3 separate regions of the Homo sapiens genome follow, and regions 1 and 2 are each linked to region 3. Evidence: fine-mapped expression QTL. A gene starts in region 3. Each other region holds a variant in brackets. All regions are shown on one strand. Distances are between the middles of the regions. Region 1 overlaps CDYL2 (chromodomain Y like 2). Region 2 overlaps ARLNC1 (androgen receptor regulated long noncoding RNA 1). Region 3 holds the start of CDYL2 (chromodomain Y like 2).

What was found. PIP is the estimated chance that this variant, and not a neighbour inherited with it, causes the effect.
Region 1: its variant is fine-mapped to the expression of CDYL2 in testis (GTEx, PIP 0.96).
Region 2: its variant is fine-mapped to the expression of CDYL2 in whole blood (INTERVAL, PIP 0.98).

The regions. Positions count from the first base shown.
Region 1 is chr16:80,639,839-80,642,594 of GRCh38, forward strand. All of the region lies in intron 2 of CDYL2 (chromodomain Y like 2), which reads right to left. Among named protein-coding and RNA genes, the nearest start is that of LINC01227, 68 kb to the left of the region's middle. The variant T/C (reference allele first, on the strand shown) is at 1,305.
Region 2 is chr16:80,831,467-80,834,222 of GRCh38, forward strand. The region is part of intron 2 of ARLNC1 (androgen receptor regulated long noncoding RNA 1); the gene reads right to left. Among named protein-coding and RNA genes, the nearest start is that of CDYL2, 28 kb to the left of the region's middle. The variant A/G (reference allele first, on the strand shown) is at 1,159.
Region 3 is chr16:80,803,122-80,805,877 of GRCh38, forward strand. CDYL2 (chromodomain Y like 2) reads right to left here and starts at 1,477. Exons shown (of 7, transcript NM_152342.4): 1 at 1,029-1,477. The coding sequence starts at 1,052. RefSeq lists silencers at 258-407, 688-757, 1,368-1,677, 1,698-1,757.

The DNA.
Region 1 (2,756 bases), 160 kb before region 3:
ACTCACTGTTGTCCTGTTATAGCAGAAAGCAAAAGCATACCAAACTCAGCTGACGTCTACCCAATGACGGAGCATTTAGACCAGCCCTAGCCAGAGGGGAATCACTGATATCCCAGTGGTCAGAACTTGAGTTCCTGCAAGTCTTGCCACAATGGGATAAAGTGCTCTGGGGCCCTAGATAAACCTGAAAGGTGGTCTAGGCCACAAGGGCTAGACCTCCAAGGCCAATCCTAGTCCCGCAATGGGCCCAGAGCCAGTAGACTCAGGGGGCACACAATCCACTGAGACACCAGCTGGGGTGGCTAAGGGAGTGCTGGTATCACCGCTCTCCTAACACCAGACTGCACACCTCAAGTATCCAAAAGAGATCCCTCCTTTCCACTTGAGGAGAGGAGAGAGAAGAGTAGGGAGGACTTTGTCTTGCATTTTGGATAACAGCTCAGTCACAGCAGGATGGGGCACTGGTCAGAGTCATGAGGCCCAGTCTGGGCCAGAAGGGAACCTGCTGCCTTCAAGGGAAGGATCCCATCTTGGAAGGATTCATCACCTGCTAACTGAAGAGCCCTGAATAACCAGCAGCAATATACAGGTACCACGTTGAGGGCCTTGGGTAAGACTCCGAGACTTGGTGGCTTCAGGTGAGACTCAGCACATTCCCATCTGTGGCGGCTACAGGGAGAGATAAATACCTGACTCTTCAATTCCCAGACACAAACATCTACAAGAATCAAGATCATCCAGGAAAACATGACCTCACCAAATAAGGCACCAGGTACTAACCCTGGAGCAAGGGAGATATGTGACCTTTCAGGCAGAGAATTCAAAGTAGCTGTTCTGAGGAAACTCAGAGAAATTAAAAATAACACAGAGAAGGAATTCAGACTTCGATTAGATAAATTTAACACGGAGATTGAAATAATTAAAAAGAATCAAGCAGAAATTGTGTAGCTAAAAAGCGTAACTGGCATAGTGAAGAATGCAGCAGACTCTGAATAGCAGAATTGAACAAGCGTAAGAAAGAATTAGTGAGCCTGAAGACAGGCTATTTGAAAATATATAGTCAGAGGAAATAAAAGAAAAAGGAATAAAAAACAGTGAAGCATGCCTACAGGATCTAGAAAATAGCCTCAAAAGGGCAAATCTAAGAGTTACTGGCCTTAAAGAGGAGGTAGGGAAAAAGATGGGAGTGGAAAGTTTATTCAAAGGGATAATAACAGAGAACTTCCCAAGCCTAGAGAAAGATATCAATATCCAAGTACAAGAAGGTTACAGAAGACAAAGCAGATTTAACCCAAATAAGGCTA[T/C]CTGAAGGCATTCAATAGTCAAACTCCCAAAGCTCAAGGATAAAGAAAAGATTCCAAAAGCAGCAAGAAAAAAGAAACAAATAGCACACAATGTAGGAGCTTTAATACATATGGCAGCAAACTTTTCAGTGGAAACCTTACAGGCCAGGAGAGAATGGCATGACATATTTAAAGTGCTAAAGGAGAAAAACAAAAAACAAAACAAAACAAAACAAAAAAACTTTTACCCTAGTATAGTATATCTGGTGAAAATCTCCTTCAAACATGAAGGGGGAATAAAGACTTTCCCATACAAACAAAAGCTGAGAAATTTTATCAACACCAGATCTCTCCCACAAGAAATGCCTAAAGGAAGCACTTCAATCAGAAAGAAAAGGATGTTAAGAAAATGTGGCACATATACACCGTGGAATACTAAGCAGCCATAAAAAATGAAGAGTTCATGTCCTTCGTAGGGACATGCATGAAACTGGAAACCATCATTCTCAGCAAACTACCGCAAGGACAAAAAACCAAACACTGCGTGTTCTCACTCATAGGAGGTAATTGAACAATGAGAACACATGGACACAGGAAGGGGAACATCACACTCTGGGGACTGTTGTGGGGTGGGGGGAGGGGGGAGGGATAGCATTAGGAGATATACCTAACGCTAAATGACGAGTTAACGGGTGCAGCACACCAACATGGCACATGTATACATATGTAACAAACCTGCACATTGTGCACATGTACCCTAAAACTTAAAGTATAATAATAAAAAAATAAAAAAAAAAAGAAAGAAATCATCTGAAGGCATAAAACCCAGTGGTAATAGCAAGTTCACAGAAAAAAACGGAATACTATAACATTGTAACTGTGGGATGTAAACTACTCTTATTAAATAGAAAGGATAAACAATGAGCAGGTCAAAAATAATAACTACAACAACTCTTCAAGACATAGTACAATAAGATATAAATAGAAACAGAAGTTGAAAAGCAGGGGGATGAAGTTAAGGTATAAAATATTTATTAGTCGCCGGGTGTGGTGGCTCACGCCTGTAATCCCAGCACTTTGGGAGGCCGAGGTGGGTGCTTCACTTGAGGTCAGGAGTTCGTGACCAGACTGGCCAAAGTGATGAAACCCCATCTCTACTAAAAATGCAAAAATTAGCTGGGCATGGTGGCATGCCCCTGTAATCCCAGCTACTTGGGAGGCTGAGTTGAGAGAATGGCTTGAACCAGGAGGCGGAAGTTGCAGTGAGCCAAGATCTCGCCACTGCAGTCTAGCCTGGGTTAACGGAGCGAGACTCCATCTAAAAAAAATTATATATTTATTAGTTTGTTATTGTTTGTTTCTTTATGCAAATAGTGTTGTTATAAGCTTAAAATGATGAGATATAAGATATTATTTGCAAACCTCATTGAATTAGTCCGTTTTCACGCTGCTGACAAAGACATCGGGTAGACT
Region 2 (2,756 bases), 28 kb after region 3:
AGTTGTACATGGGAAGGATACGATGGTGAGCATATCGGATGCAATCCTGGTCATTCTTGAGCTTATATTCTAGTAGAGGGAGAAAGATAATAAGCAAGTGATACAGTTTGGGTATTTGTCCTTGCAAATCTCACGTTGAAATCTGATCCTCAGTATTGGAGGTGAGGCCTAGTGGAGGTTTTTGGACCATGGGGGCAGATCATGCATGAATGTCTTGGTGCCATACCTATGAGTGAGTTCTTACTCTATTAGTTCAGGCAAGATCTGGGTACTAAGAAAAAGCCTAGCACCTCCTCCTCTCTGTTCTTTCCTGTCGCCATGTGATGCAGCTCTCCTTCGCCTTCCGCCATAACTGGAAGCTCCCTGAGGCCCTCACCAGAAGCAAATGCTGGCCATGCTTCACGTACAGCCTGCAGAACCATGAGCCAAATAAACTTCTTTTCTTTATAAATTACCCAACCTCAGGTGTTCCTTTATAGCAACACAACGGACTAAGACACTAAGTAAGCCATTAAACAAGCCAATACAGGTAGTGATATGCACCTTTTTTTTTTTTTTTTTTTTTGAGACGGAGTCTCACTCTGTCACCAGACTGGAGTGCAGTGGCATGATCTCTGCTCACTGCAACCTCTGCCTCCCGGCTCCAAGCGATTCTCATGCCTCAGCCTCCCGAGTAGCTGGGATTACAGGCACGCATCACCGTACCCAGGTAATTTTTTTGTATTTTTAGTAGAGACAGGGTTTTACCATGTTGGCCAGGATGGTCTTTATCTCCTAACCTCGTGATACACCCCCTCAGCCTCCCAAAGTGCTGGGATTATAGGCATGAGCCACCGCACCCAGATGATATGCACTATTTTAAGAAAAAAAAAACCTACTATAGAATGGCAGGGAAGAGGGGGAGCAAAACTCCAAACTGTCCAAAGAAGAAACATTTGAACTAAGATGGAGGCAATGAAGAGGAACCAGCTGAGTGATGGTCTAGGGGCAAGATCTAGGGGAAAGTCAAGAGAAAGAGACTGAAGAGAAAGGGTTAGGGCTGATTTAGTGAGCAAAGATCCAGGAGGGGGAGAAGTTTACAGTACCCTGAGAACAGCAATAATGCACAAACATTACTATTCCAACAGCTGCATTGAAACACCCTTGGTAGGATTGGGA[A/G]AAAGATGGATTATTGCCATTTGGACACTCCAGGACTGTCCATTAATACTCCTGACTAATGGAAGATGATAAAGATTGGGCAAGAAAAATGACTGCAGCAAACGCCTTGGCATCTTCAACTTGTCACCTTTAGCAAGAGGCCTCTTCAACAGTTCTTGGACTGTGTTTGGCAGCCAGGCACTCTCAGAACGGCAAGGAGACACAGCTAACATGATCTTTGCAATGCAACAAAACAAGCGATCTTGAGGCGACAGAGTCCAAAAGATGACAGAAAATTCATCCAACTCCTGAAGCATGTGATGCCACCAGAAAGCCTTGGCAACAGCCCTTGCAACCCCAGGCTACACCACCTCAGTCAAAGCCAAGTCCTAACATATCTCCCTTCTTCTCCTGCAGCCAAGCTGGGCAAGAAGAGATTAGACTCCAGCCCCTTGCAAAAGCTTCAAGCTGCATGTGTCACCAAAAGACCTTGAGAAAGTCACAGGAAAGTGTCTAAAATCTACATAGAAAACATTTGCCCAAGGAGACTTGTGTGACAAGGCAGGGCCCACTTTGCAGAGCTGGCAGATGTCACCATTGCTTGAGAGTTCTTCTCCTTGACTTAGTTCTGTAAACCAGATGCCCCCCAACACGCTCTAGTTTGATGACGGCATATTTTCTTTTATTCTCCAAATAAAATGTGTCGAGCTCCCATCTCATGTACTAGGAGAGGTCCTGTGACCTTTCCAGTGCCTCAGAGAGTGAGAATGGGAAAGAGGAGTGGATGAAGTAGGGCTTACCCTCCTGTGGGTCACCTCTCTTCCCTGCTGCTTCTGAACCCCACTCAGCCTCCTTCCCTCTTCCCCAGCAACTATCCCAAAGCTGTTACATCGTGTGGCAAACGTTTACTGAGGCTTTTAGGGATAATATAAGTGGTTTCTTTACAACCATTCCTTCACAGCCAGAACGCACGTAATTTAAAACTGTGTCATTTTCACACACGTCCCATAATGTCTCCTTCATGGGGAGCTTCTCATGGCCTTGGTCTCTCCCCAGAGGCTGCCTATGGCCATATTTCTGGGATCCAATTCTCACACACTGGGCCCCTCATTCTTGGGCTTCCCACATTCAGTTACCTCATTCTTGGGCTGCCCACAAACAGTCAAAATCCTTATTTTCTAAGCTGAAGCAGTTGAGCTCTCTCACTTACCCTTACAAATCTAGGTTTTGCCTAGAAGTAGTCAAAAAAGCAAGACAGAGACATCTTCATCAACCACAAAGTCTCATCAAAGTATTTTACTCCATCAAAGAGCCATTCACTTCTGATAGCCATGCTCTTCCTCTCTTAAAAGGCAGATTCTCTTTGTTTTTTTTTTTTTAACTAAATACAACGTTTTCTTCCTACCACACTGCCTCATGATCCTATTAAAAGATATCAAGATGAGGACCAGCCATGAATTCACTTCCCTCCGCAGTCCACTAACATGTTGCTTTAGTGAAAATAAACAAAACAAAAATTTAGAAATTAAACTAGGGCATTTGGATTCTTAGAAGGGATAAAACTGCATGGTAGTAGCATACGGTGATGTCCTAGATTCAATTCTATGACTATTCAGTGG
Region 3 (2,756 bases):
AGTGGTGGCTGGCTGTTCCTTGTGTTGTCCACTTGTGGAAAACCCAAAGCAGTAACAGTTGTGTTCCTAAGCCCTTGCTCCCCAAAGACCATGGGTGTTCCTCCATTGTTTGAAAGATGCCAGACTAATGTCTTCCTTCGCCACTTTTGGGAAGACATGAGAGTATCCAACGCTGGCCACTACTCATTAGGACCTGGAGCCAGGTATCCACTGAGGGTGACGAGAGTACTGGGCGCTGGGCTGGCATCTGTGTCCTATGTCCCCAACACCTCAGACTTCCACGTTCTCCTCCCACCCAGGGCCCTCCGCAGCGCCCCCTTTCGCCCCCAGGGAGCACGACACCCGCAAGGGCCACCCCCACGCCCGAGCCCGGAGGGCGTCCGAGCTGGTGCGGGGGCAGCAGGTGGGGGGTGAGGGAGGTGGCCCGGGGACCCCGGGGAGCGGTTTGGCGGTTGTCCCCCCGAACCCCCACCCAGCCTCCCCCTTCGCAGCCCCCCGGGACCCCGCCTCGCCCCGGCCAGGCTCCGCTCCGATCGCCCGCCCCCCTCCTCCCCCGCGCCCCCGGCCCAGCCGGGCCGCGCAACCCCCGCCCCACACCCCCGCCGGCCGCGGCGCGCCCCCCCGCATTCCCAGCACGTCCGGCGCCGACTTTTACCTGTACTTTCTGTACTCGAGGCGGCTCGTCGGGCGAGAAACACCTCCCCGGGACCGCTACCTCCCCCGCCCCGGCTCCGCCCGGCTTCCTCCTTCCCCTCCAAGGCCGCAAAGTAGATGGAGTAAGAGAGTGTGTGTGCGAGAGAAAGAGAAAGAGGGAGCGGGCGCGGGCGCCGCGGGAGGCGGCGGGCGGCGGGCGGCGGGCGGGAGGCGCGCCCGGCCCCCGCCACCCTCCGGCCGCCGCCGCCGCCGCCGCGGGCTCGGCAACTCCGGATTGCGCCCGGCCCCGGCCCCGGCCCGGTCCCCGCCGCCCGCCGCCGCCGCCCGCCGCCGCCCGCTGACTGGGGCCGGCCCGCGCCCCCGCGTCCCCGTACCTCGTAAAGGTCCCCAGAAGCCATGCCAGGCTGCGGAACTTGGCTCGCCGGTGTGCGCGTCTGCTCGCTCGCGCCCTCCGTGCGTGTGCGCGCGGGGTCCGGTGTGCGCGTGTGTGTGCGCGCGTGTGTGTGCGAGTGTGTGTGGTGTGTTGAGTAAACTGTGTTTTTGCAGAATGACAGGCTTGGGGGCTGCCTATGCGCAGAATCAGAGCGGGCGGCGGCGGGGCTGGCGTAACCGGCAGCAGCGGCGGCGGCGGCGGCGGCGGCACGAGCGCGGGCAGCAGCGACGGCCGCGCAGCGCGCCCGGGAGGCACGGACGCGGCCCGAGCGCCGCGGCCCCCGCGACCCGGCGACCCGGCGGCGGTGGCTGCAGCCGGCAACGGCTCGCCCCGGCGCCGCCTGCAGGAAGCCGCCCGGCGCCCGCCGCCGGCCCGGACGCTGCTGCCACTGGGCGAGTCCCCGCCCCCCGGGAGCCCGGCCCGGCCCCCGGGGCGGGGAGGCGGGGGCTGCTGCCCGGCCGCGCCCCGGGGGACCGGTCCCAGAGTCGACTAGCGCTCGGGCCCGCCCCGCCACCCCGGGCCGGCTTCGGGAGCAGCTGGCGGGGCCCCCGGGGGGCGGCGGGCCAGGTGCCCGCCGGGTGCGCCCGATCTGGGGCCGCGAAGGGGCGGCCGGGGAGCCAGGTAGAGGGCTGCGGCTGCAGACCTCAGGGAAGGGGCCCCAGCCGAGCCCCGCCGGCCCGGGGTCCCCACCTACCTCCTCCACCCTCGAGGGGAGTGGACGCCGCCTGGGAGACCTGGCCCCTCGGGGCTGCGCGGCCCCTCCCTCCAGGCTGGGTTGTAAGATGTGGAGGCCACAGGGAGGAAGGATGAAATGGCCCATCCAGAGGCACCATGGGGATCCAGGACAGGCGTGGCCACCCCATAAACCCTGGAAAGTCTTTAGAGCCAGGGGTGGCCTTCCCTCAACAACCCCTCTCCCCGAATTTATTCACTCATCCCTTACTCAAACATTTACCAAAGTCAACCCAAGTGCACAGTGTCCCTGGACAGGCAAAACTGGGACCCTGCCCAGAGACAGTTTGAATCCGCAAGTGAGGAGTGTAATGGAGCACTCAGTTGTTCTAAAAGGTCATCCTGCGTGTGACAGGCTGCGGAGCTGGAGGAGCTAGAGAAGCTCTCCAAAACCCAAATCCGTTCCTAAGCCATCTCTCATGGATAAATGGTCACCCCTCTGCTTAAAGGGTTCTCCTTATAAATATTTATGTATATAGTTACTTCAGAACCTGCAAGGTCAGACTTCTGAAATTGGAGGGAAGATCTTCATCCCCACCCATGAAATGCCTGCCTGGCTCCAGATGTGATGTATCATTAACTCACATGCTCCCTGGATCATTTTCTACTTGGGAGGCTGTGGGCAGGTCACCGAACCCTGATGGGAGATGGTGATAGTCACCTAAGTGATTTAAATAGAATTAAGGAGAGGATCTACGTATACATGAAGTGACCTGTCCATCCCAGCAGAACTCAATAAAGGTGATTTGTATCTGAGTCTCAACCTGGACTGCCCTCATGGAGAGTGAGATGGCAGAGGGGCTCGATAAATTGTTTAATCCTGAGGTTGTCAAACTTTGAAAAGTCACCAAATTTTTTAATCCAAAAAAAAAAAAAAAAAAAAAAAACTCCATGGAACCTGAAGCATGTCTGGCTCATTCCAGGACACATGGATTTG